Homo sapiens: one gene and its partner. The protein of the gene in region 2 purifies or fractionates together with the protein of the main gene of each other region. This does not show direct contact. Each region holds a gene or a part of one and is shown on either strand. Other genes may lie near its edges.

Region 1 (3,500 bases), on a different chromosome or scaffold from region 2:
GCTGAGGCAGGCAGATCACGAGGTCAGGAGATCGAGACCATCCTGGCTAACATGGTGAAACCCCGTCTCTACTAAAAATACAAAAATATCCGGGCGAGATGGCAGGCGCCTGTAGTCCCAGCTACTCCGGAGGCTGAGGCAGGAGAATGGCGTGAACCCAGGGGGCGGAGCCTGCAGTGAGCCGAGATCATGCCACTGCACTCCAGCCTGGGCGACAGAGCAAGACTCAGTCTCAGAAAAAAAAAAAAAATTAGCTGGGCGTGTTGGCCCGTATCTGTAGTCCCAGCTACTCGGGAGGCTGAGGCAGGACAATCACTTGAACCCGGGAGGCGGAGGCTGCAGTGAGCTGAGATCACACCACTGCACTCCAGCCTGGAAGATGGAGCGAGACTCCATCTCAAATAAAAATAAAAATAAATAAAGAAAATAAGGAAAAAAAAACTTCAAAGCAGGGGAGGCTCAGGTTAGACATTAGAAAGAACTGCCAGCCTGGCCCACGACACAGTCCCCAGAGGAACCTGAAACCCAGCACAGGAGATCTCGTCCAATAGGCTAGATTCTATTCCTGAACCCCAGAAATCCATGCAGAAATCTCTGGGTTCTACTTGAATTCTAAGGGGGTTTGGCAGAGTTCTAGGCCCAGCAGCCCAGAATACGCCCGTCCACCTGGGTCCCCTGAGCAGAGACAGCTGGGCCTCACTCTTGCTCCCAGCGCCCGGGGTCAGAAGAAAGGGTAAGCTGCCCTTTGCCTTAATCGGGCAGAGTTCCTGCCTTGGGCAAACAAAAAGCATGGGTGAAGGGTGGAGGAGAAACAAATCAAATAAAAAAAAAAATCCTTGTTCAGAACGCGGTGGCCGCGCTAGCAGACAAGAGGTCACCAAGGTGTCAGGGCCAGGGAACTGGCCTCTGAGGCTGGAGTCGGGGGTAATTGGGGAAGGCAGCTCCTGCAAGAGAATGGGGCTGGGGAAAGTCCCTTGTGGGGCGTCCCTGGCCTCTTCAGCTCCACGGCAGCAACCAGGGGGCCACGGATCCTAATTGGATTCCTCCAGCCTAGGGCCAGACTGCAGCCCACGGGATCAAGGGATCAGTGGTAATGAGGTTAGCAGGCGCCGGCCCCCACCCTGTGAGGCACCCAGACCCCTGTGAAAGGGAGGGGTGAAAGGGAGGGGAAAAAGGGGAGGAAGAAGCTGTTTGTTCACCCCGGCTCCAGCGGCTGTGATCGTCCCCAGTGTGTCCCCAGCACGTACTCACCCTCCTTCCTCATGCCCACCCGGAAGCACTTCTTGAGACGGCAGTACTGGCACTGGTTCCGGTGGTGCTGGTCGATCTGGCAGTCACGGTTGGACCTGGGGGCACACAGAAGCCAGGGCTCCCTGAGACCCCCATATCCTCCTCCCCGAACCAGCCTATGAGCCGCCTTTGGAGGCTGCCCCTCAGAAATACTAGTAGGGGCCCTCTAGACTGGAGAGGTAGCCCCAAAGGGGTACAGGAGCTCAGCTTGCAGGTCTGCAAACCAGACAGGATAACCCGGATGAGTGGTGATGGATGAAGAGGAATCTGTGGAAAAGCAGATGAACACCCCAGGGAGGGCACATTGGCATGGGTTTTGAAGGATGAATAGGAGTTCTCCAGGTGAATGGCGGGGTGATCCCAGAGAGAGGGTACAGCCAGAGCAAAAGGGTTGAAATACACAAATATGGAGGCCTAAAGAGTTTCATTTTATTTGGTCACTGTCAGGCTGAGCAGGGTCATTGTCCCCAAAAAGATGTGAAGGCAAAGAGGACATGGTCAGAGAGCTGGACTTTGTGAATTAACTAGGGGTCAGGCCAGGGGCTAGTGGTCTGTGGGGTCATAGCATTGTGGGGCCCCAGCATTATCACCCGCACAATGCCCACCCCAAGGAATGAGGAAGTAAACAAAGTCACTCTGGTCCTCAGCCCTGAAGGCCCCACACCTACGCTCTTCCGAGAGGACCACCCAACCCCTATGCAAGCTGGAGATTTTCCTGGTCAGCCCTCAGTGAATGCCGTTGCCTCTTGCAGGGATGAGACAGGTGGCCCCACCCTGAGAGGTGGTGAGCTCCCCATCCTGGGTCAGCCCCCAAGCAGGAAGGTCCAGGCCTTATTCTTCAAATGTCCCCAGAACCTTCTCCCCTTGGCCCCTGCCCTTGGACTCCCCTGGTCTCTTGCCACCAGGAGCTGGGGGCTCTCCAAGGCCTGGGCCTGGAGCAACTACCCCTGGGGTTCCAGCTGGACACCCAGGGGACACACAGAGACAGTCACAGAGTAGAACCACCACTTAAGGGAATTAAACAGATGCATCTCTGCAGTGGCTCACGCCTGTAATCCCAGCACTTTGGGAGGCGGGGGAGGGTGGATCACCTGAGGTCAGTTCAAGACCAGCCTGGCCAACATGGTGAAACCCCGTCTCTACTAAAAATACAAAAATGAGCTGGGCGTGGTGGCGCATGCCTGTAATCCCAGCTACTTGGCAGGCTGAGGAAGGAGAATCGCTTGAACTGGGGAGGTGGAGGTTGCAGTGAGCCAAGATTGACCCACTGCATTCCAGCCAGGGTGACAGAGTGAGACTCTGTCTCAAAAAAAAAGAAAAAAAAAAAGGCTGGGTGCAGTGGCTCATGCCTGTAATCCCAGCACTTTGGGAGGCCGAGGCGGGCGGATCACCTGAGGTTGGGAGTTTGAGACCAGCCTGAACAACATAGAGAAAACCTGTCTCTACTAAAAATACAAAATTAGCCGGGCATGGTGGCGCATGCCTGTAATCCCAGCTATTTGGGAGGCTGAGGCAGGAGAACCGCTTGAACCCGGGAGGCAGAGGTTGCAGTGAGTTGAGATCACGCCATCGCACTCCAGCCTGGGCAACAAGAGTGAAACTCCGTCTCAAAAACAAAACAAAACAAAACAAAACAGATGAATCTCAGCTGCAGATACCCAGCCCTGCCCCTCAGGTGGCGACTGCCCCACTGAGCCTCGGTTTCCTCATCTGAAAATGGGAGGTCAGATATTGCCCTATCATATGGGATGGACTGGGTCAGAGGGGTTCACGGGGGACAGTGCCAAGACCCAGAGCCCAGCCGGAGAACCCAACTTAGGAAAGCTGAGGATCTGCGCCCACTCCCCCGTACCCCCCCTCCACCACTGCCTGGGTCCTGCAGCACCAGCCACTGAGCCCCTGGGAAGAGGCCCCACTAGGGCAGAGGGAGCTCAGGCAGAACCAGAACAAAGCCCAGCGGCTGGGTGGTGGGAGGGTCCAGGGCAGCCGGGTGGAAACGGCCTGGCCTGGGGCGGCCCTGCAGGCAGGCAGAGGCCCAGCTCAGGGGCCCCTGACCTCAGGGGAGGCCCTGAACCTTCAGTCTCAACTTCCCCAGCTGTGGAATTGGGACAGATCCATCCCTCCAAGGAGGGAAACAGTTAAGTTCTTCCTGTTATCCCACCTAAAGAGTGCAAGCTTTTTTGCCCAACCCCATGGCCCAACTCAGCTTC
Region 2 (3,500 bases):
AACCTGTGGAGGTGTGTACCTTGTGGAGGTGTGGATCCTGTGGCAGTGTGTACCCTGTAGAGGTGTGTACCCTGTGGAGGTATGGATTCTGTGGAGATGTGTATCCTCTGGAGATGTGTACCCTTTGGAGCTATGGATCCTGTGGAGGTGTGTACCCTGTGGAGGTGTGTACCCTGTGGAGGTATGGATCCTGTGGAGATGTGTACCCTGTGGATGTAAGGATCCTGTGGAGGTGTGTACCCTGTGGAGATGTGTACCCTGTGGAGGTATGGATCCTGTGGAGGTGTGTATCCTGTGGAGTTATGGATCCTGTGGAGTTGTATACCCTGTGGAAGTATGGATCCTCTGGAGGTGTGTACCCCTGTGGAAATGTGTATACTTGTGGAGGGGTGTACACCTGTTGAGGAGGGTATACCTGTGGAAATGTGTACCCTGTGAAGGTATGGACACTGTAGAGATATGTTCACCTGTGGAAGTGTGTACCCTGTGGAGGTGTGTACGCCTGTGAAGGTATGTATATCTGTGGAGGTGTATACACCTGGGGAATGGTGTTCACCTTTGGAGGTATGTACACTGTGGAGGGGTGTACTCCTGTGAAAGTGTGTATACTTGTGGAGGGGTGTATACCTGTTGAGGAGTGTACACCTGTGGAGGTATATTCACCAATGGAACTGTATACCCTGTGGAGGTGTGTACACCTGTGGAAGTCTATACTTTTGGAGGGGTGTACACCTGTGGAGATGTGTAGCCTGTGGAGGTATGTTCATCTGTGGAAGTGTGTACCCTGTAGAAGCATGTACCACATGGAGGGGTGTACCTCTGTGAAGGGGTGTACACTTGTGGAAGTATGTTCACCTATGGAAGTATGTACCCTGTGGAAGTGTGTTCACCTGTGGAGGTATGTTCACCTGTGGAAGTGTATACACCTTTGGAAATGTGCACACCTGTGGAGGGTGTACCCTGTGGAGATGTGTACACCTATGAAGGGGTGTACTCTGTGGAGGTGTGTACCCTGTGGAGGTATGTACTCTGTACTCTTTGGAGGTATGTACCCTGTGGAAGTGTGTACCCTGTGGAGGTGTGTACCTCATAGAGGTGTGTACCCTGTGGAGATATGTACCCTGTAAAGGTGTATCTGGCCCACAGAGCTGTCAGCAGGGACCTCACCCCTCCTCTGCCTTTATGTGGGGCGCCCCTGAGGACATCCTCAAGGAGATCAGGAAGACTTGGCTGAGTTTTTACACCCCAGGAAGGAGGAGCTGTATTATCATCCCATTTTATAGATGAGGAAACTGAGACTCAGAGAAGTTAACCTGACTTGCCCAAGTTCACTCAGCTAGTATATTATGCTCCCCAGGATTCCAACCCGGGCTTCAAAGCCAGCATGCTGAACCATTACGCTACACGGCCCCACCTTGGTAACGCCTCAGCCTCCCTGCTCAAGCCTGAAAGGTGGGTGGGGGCGACGTTGGAGGTTTCCTTGGGAGGGTCTGTCCCTGCCTCCCCTGTGGGCAACTGAATCACAGGGACAGACAGGCCTGGGGCACCAAGGGTCCTCCCCAGGCTCTCTTCACGCTCCCTGCTGCCTCCCACCTGGCGGCCTCCTACCCACTCTTTATGAGTGAGGTGGGGACGGCTCAGTTCCACCTTAATGGTTTCTGTTGCTGGCTGCGGCAGCATGTTTTACGAGGGGTGGGGCTCGGCCGGCCGGGTGCTGGCCTGTAGCCCCACCCAGGGCTCCACCCGACAGGCTGCTGGGAGGGGTCCCCTGGAGCAGCTCGGCAATTATGGGGGTGGCAGGGAAGGACCTGGGGGCTCTGCCTGAGGCTTGGGCACCCAAGGAAACTCGGGGTCTGGGAATGCCAAGAAAGAGGGGGTTTCTAGCTCCTTTCTCCCCATCAATGTTGGAAGTTCTGAGGGCAAAATTCTGGCCTCCCTGGCTCTTAACCCAGCATCAGTTTCGGAAAATGGGTTGCGTGCCCCTGCCTTGAGATCTGACTCAAGTACAGAGCAGGTAGGGACAGAATGGGCAGGGAGGGGAGTGGGGAGAACAAAGGATGAAAAGCCACCATGTCCCCCAGGTGACGCTTTCCTCCATGTGAGCCACCGACACCTGCAGCTGAGTCATTCCAGTCCCCAAATCAGGCTTCTCCTAAAGACTCTTCAGCATTCCCATGTGCCTCTGGAAGCAGGCTGGTCCCAGAGCATTGCCTAGTACGCCCATCCTGGAAAAGCACTTGAGCCTTGGGCCGACCTGGAGGTTCTTCCAGATCTCTAATCCCTATTTATTGTAATCTTAGTCCTCTTGTCCTGTCCTTCCTGCCATTCACCAAGCCACCCACCAGAGCCTCTTTAAGGGCAATAGACTCATCCCTTCTGCAGGGAGGGTCCCAGCTTTGCTTCAGATGCCTGACTCCAACAGCAACCAGTCTCCCACTCTCCTTTGCCCAGCACCCCTTCCTTTTCGCCATCCCTGGCTGCCTCTGGGCACCTTCCCGTCTCTCCAGCCCCTCTCTAACCTCTGCCACCCAGCCATGGCCCCAAAGGAGCCAAATCCAAGCACTCACAGTGGGCTCTGGGTCATGGCCACCATCACCGCTTCGGGGAGTCATTCAGCCTGCAGCTCCCCAGGAGCCTCCATCGAGGTATAAATACTCCCACATGCCTGGACCGGCCCCCTGCCCGAGGGCTGAGGCGGGGCTGTCTCCCCAGGCCAGGCAGGCAGGTCACATGCCCCATAAATGCCACAGGACCACAGGCCCTTCCTAGCAGCCCTGGGGAGGCCAACTAGAGCCTGACCTCTCTGGATGGATGGGTGGATAGATAGATGTATTTATGTATGTAAAGATGAACAGTTGGATGAATGGACAGATCATCGGATGGAGAGATTGATGGATGGAAAGCTGGACAGATGGACAAATCAACAGACAGATAGATGAATGTTTTATTTTTTTATTTTAAGTATTTTTATTTCTGTGAGTATCTGTAGTGTAAAGGATGAATATTTAGTGGGATAGATGGATGGATGTCCTTGACCTACCCGTGAATGTTTATTCTGGTTTTTTTTGTTTGTTTGTTTGAGACAAAGTCTCACTCTGTCACCCAGGGTGGAGTGCAGTGGTGCAATCTTGGCTCACTGCAACCTCCACCTCCTGGGTTCAAGCGATTCTCCTGCCTCAGCCTCCCAAGAAGCTGGGATTACAGGCGGGCAGCACCAAGTCTGGTTAACTTTTGTATTTTTAGCAGAGATGGGGTTTTGCCATGTTGGCCAAGCTGGGGATGTTTATTTTGTAGATGGAAAGAAAGGGGTGTTTGGTTTCAAGGAAACAAGAAATGCTACCCCTCAAAGCTTCCATCCATTCCTTTCTGAGACATACCTACTAGGACCCCTTCTCTCCTCTGCTAGTCTGAGAGATCAGCCCTACTGGGTTCTTCCTACTCCTTAGATGCTCCTTGACAGAGACCTCCCACCTAAGCATCCTCGGCCTCCAGGGATCTTT

The links.
Region 1: the proteins of FOXN1 (region 2) and NR2F6 purify together in Homo sapiens (affinity purification with mass spectrometry; one large-scale study listed by BioGRID and IntAct). This does not show direct contact.

The regions. Positions count from the first base shown.
Region 1 is NC_000019.10:17,239,420-17,242,919, forward strand, and holds part of NR2F6 (nuclear receptor subfamily 2 group F member 6), read right to left. Parts: intron 1,347-3,500; coding exon 1,252-1,346; intron 1-1,251. UniProt on the Homo sapiens protein: Transcription factor predominantly involved in transcriptional repression.
Region 2 is NC_000017.11:28,512,848-28,516,347, reverse strand, and holds part of FOXN1 (forkhead box protein N1), read right to left. Parts: intron 1-3,500. UniProt on the Homo sapiens protein: Transcriptional regulator which regulates the development, differentiation, and function of thymic epithelial cells (TECs) both in the prenatal and postnatal thymus.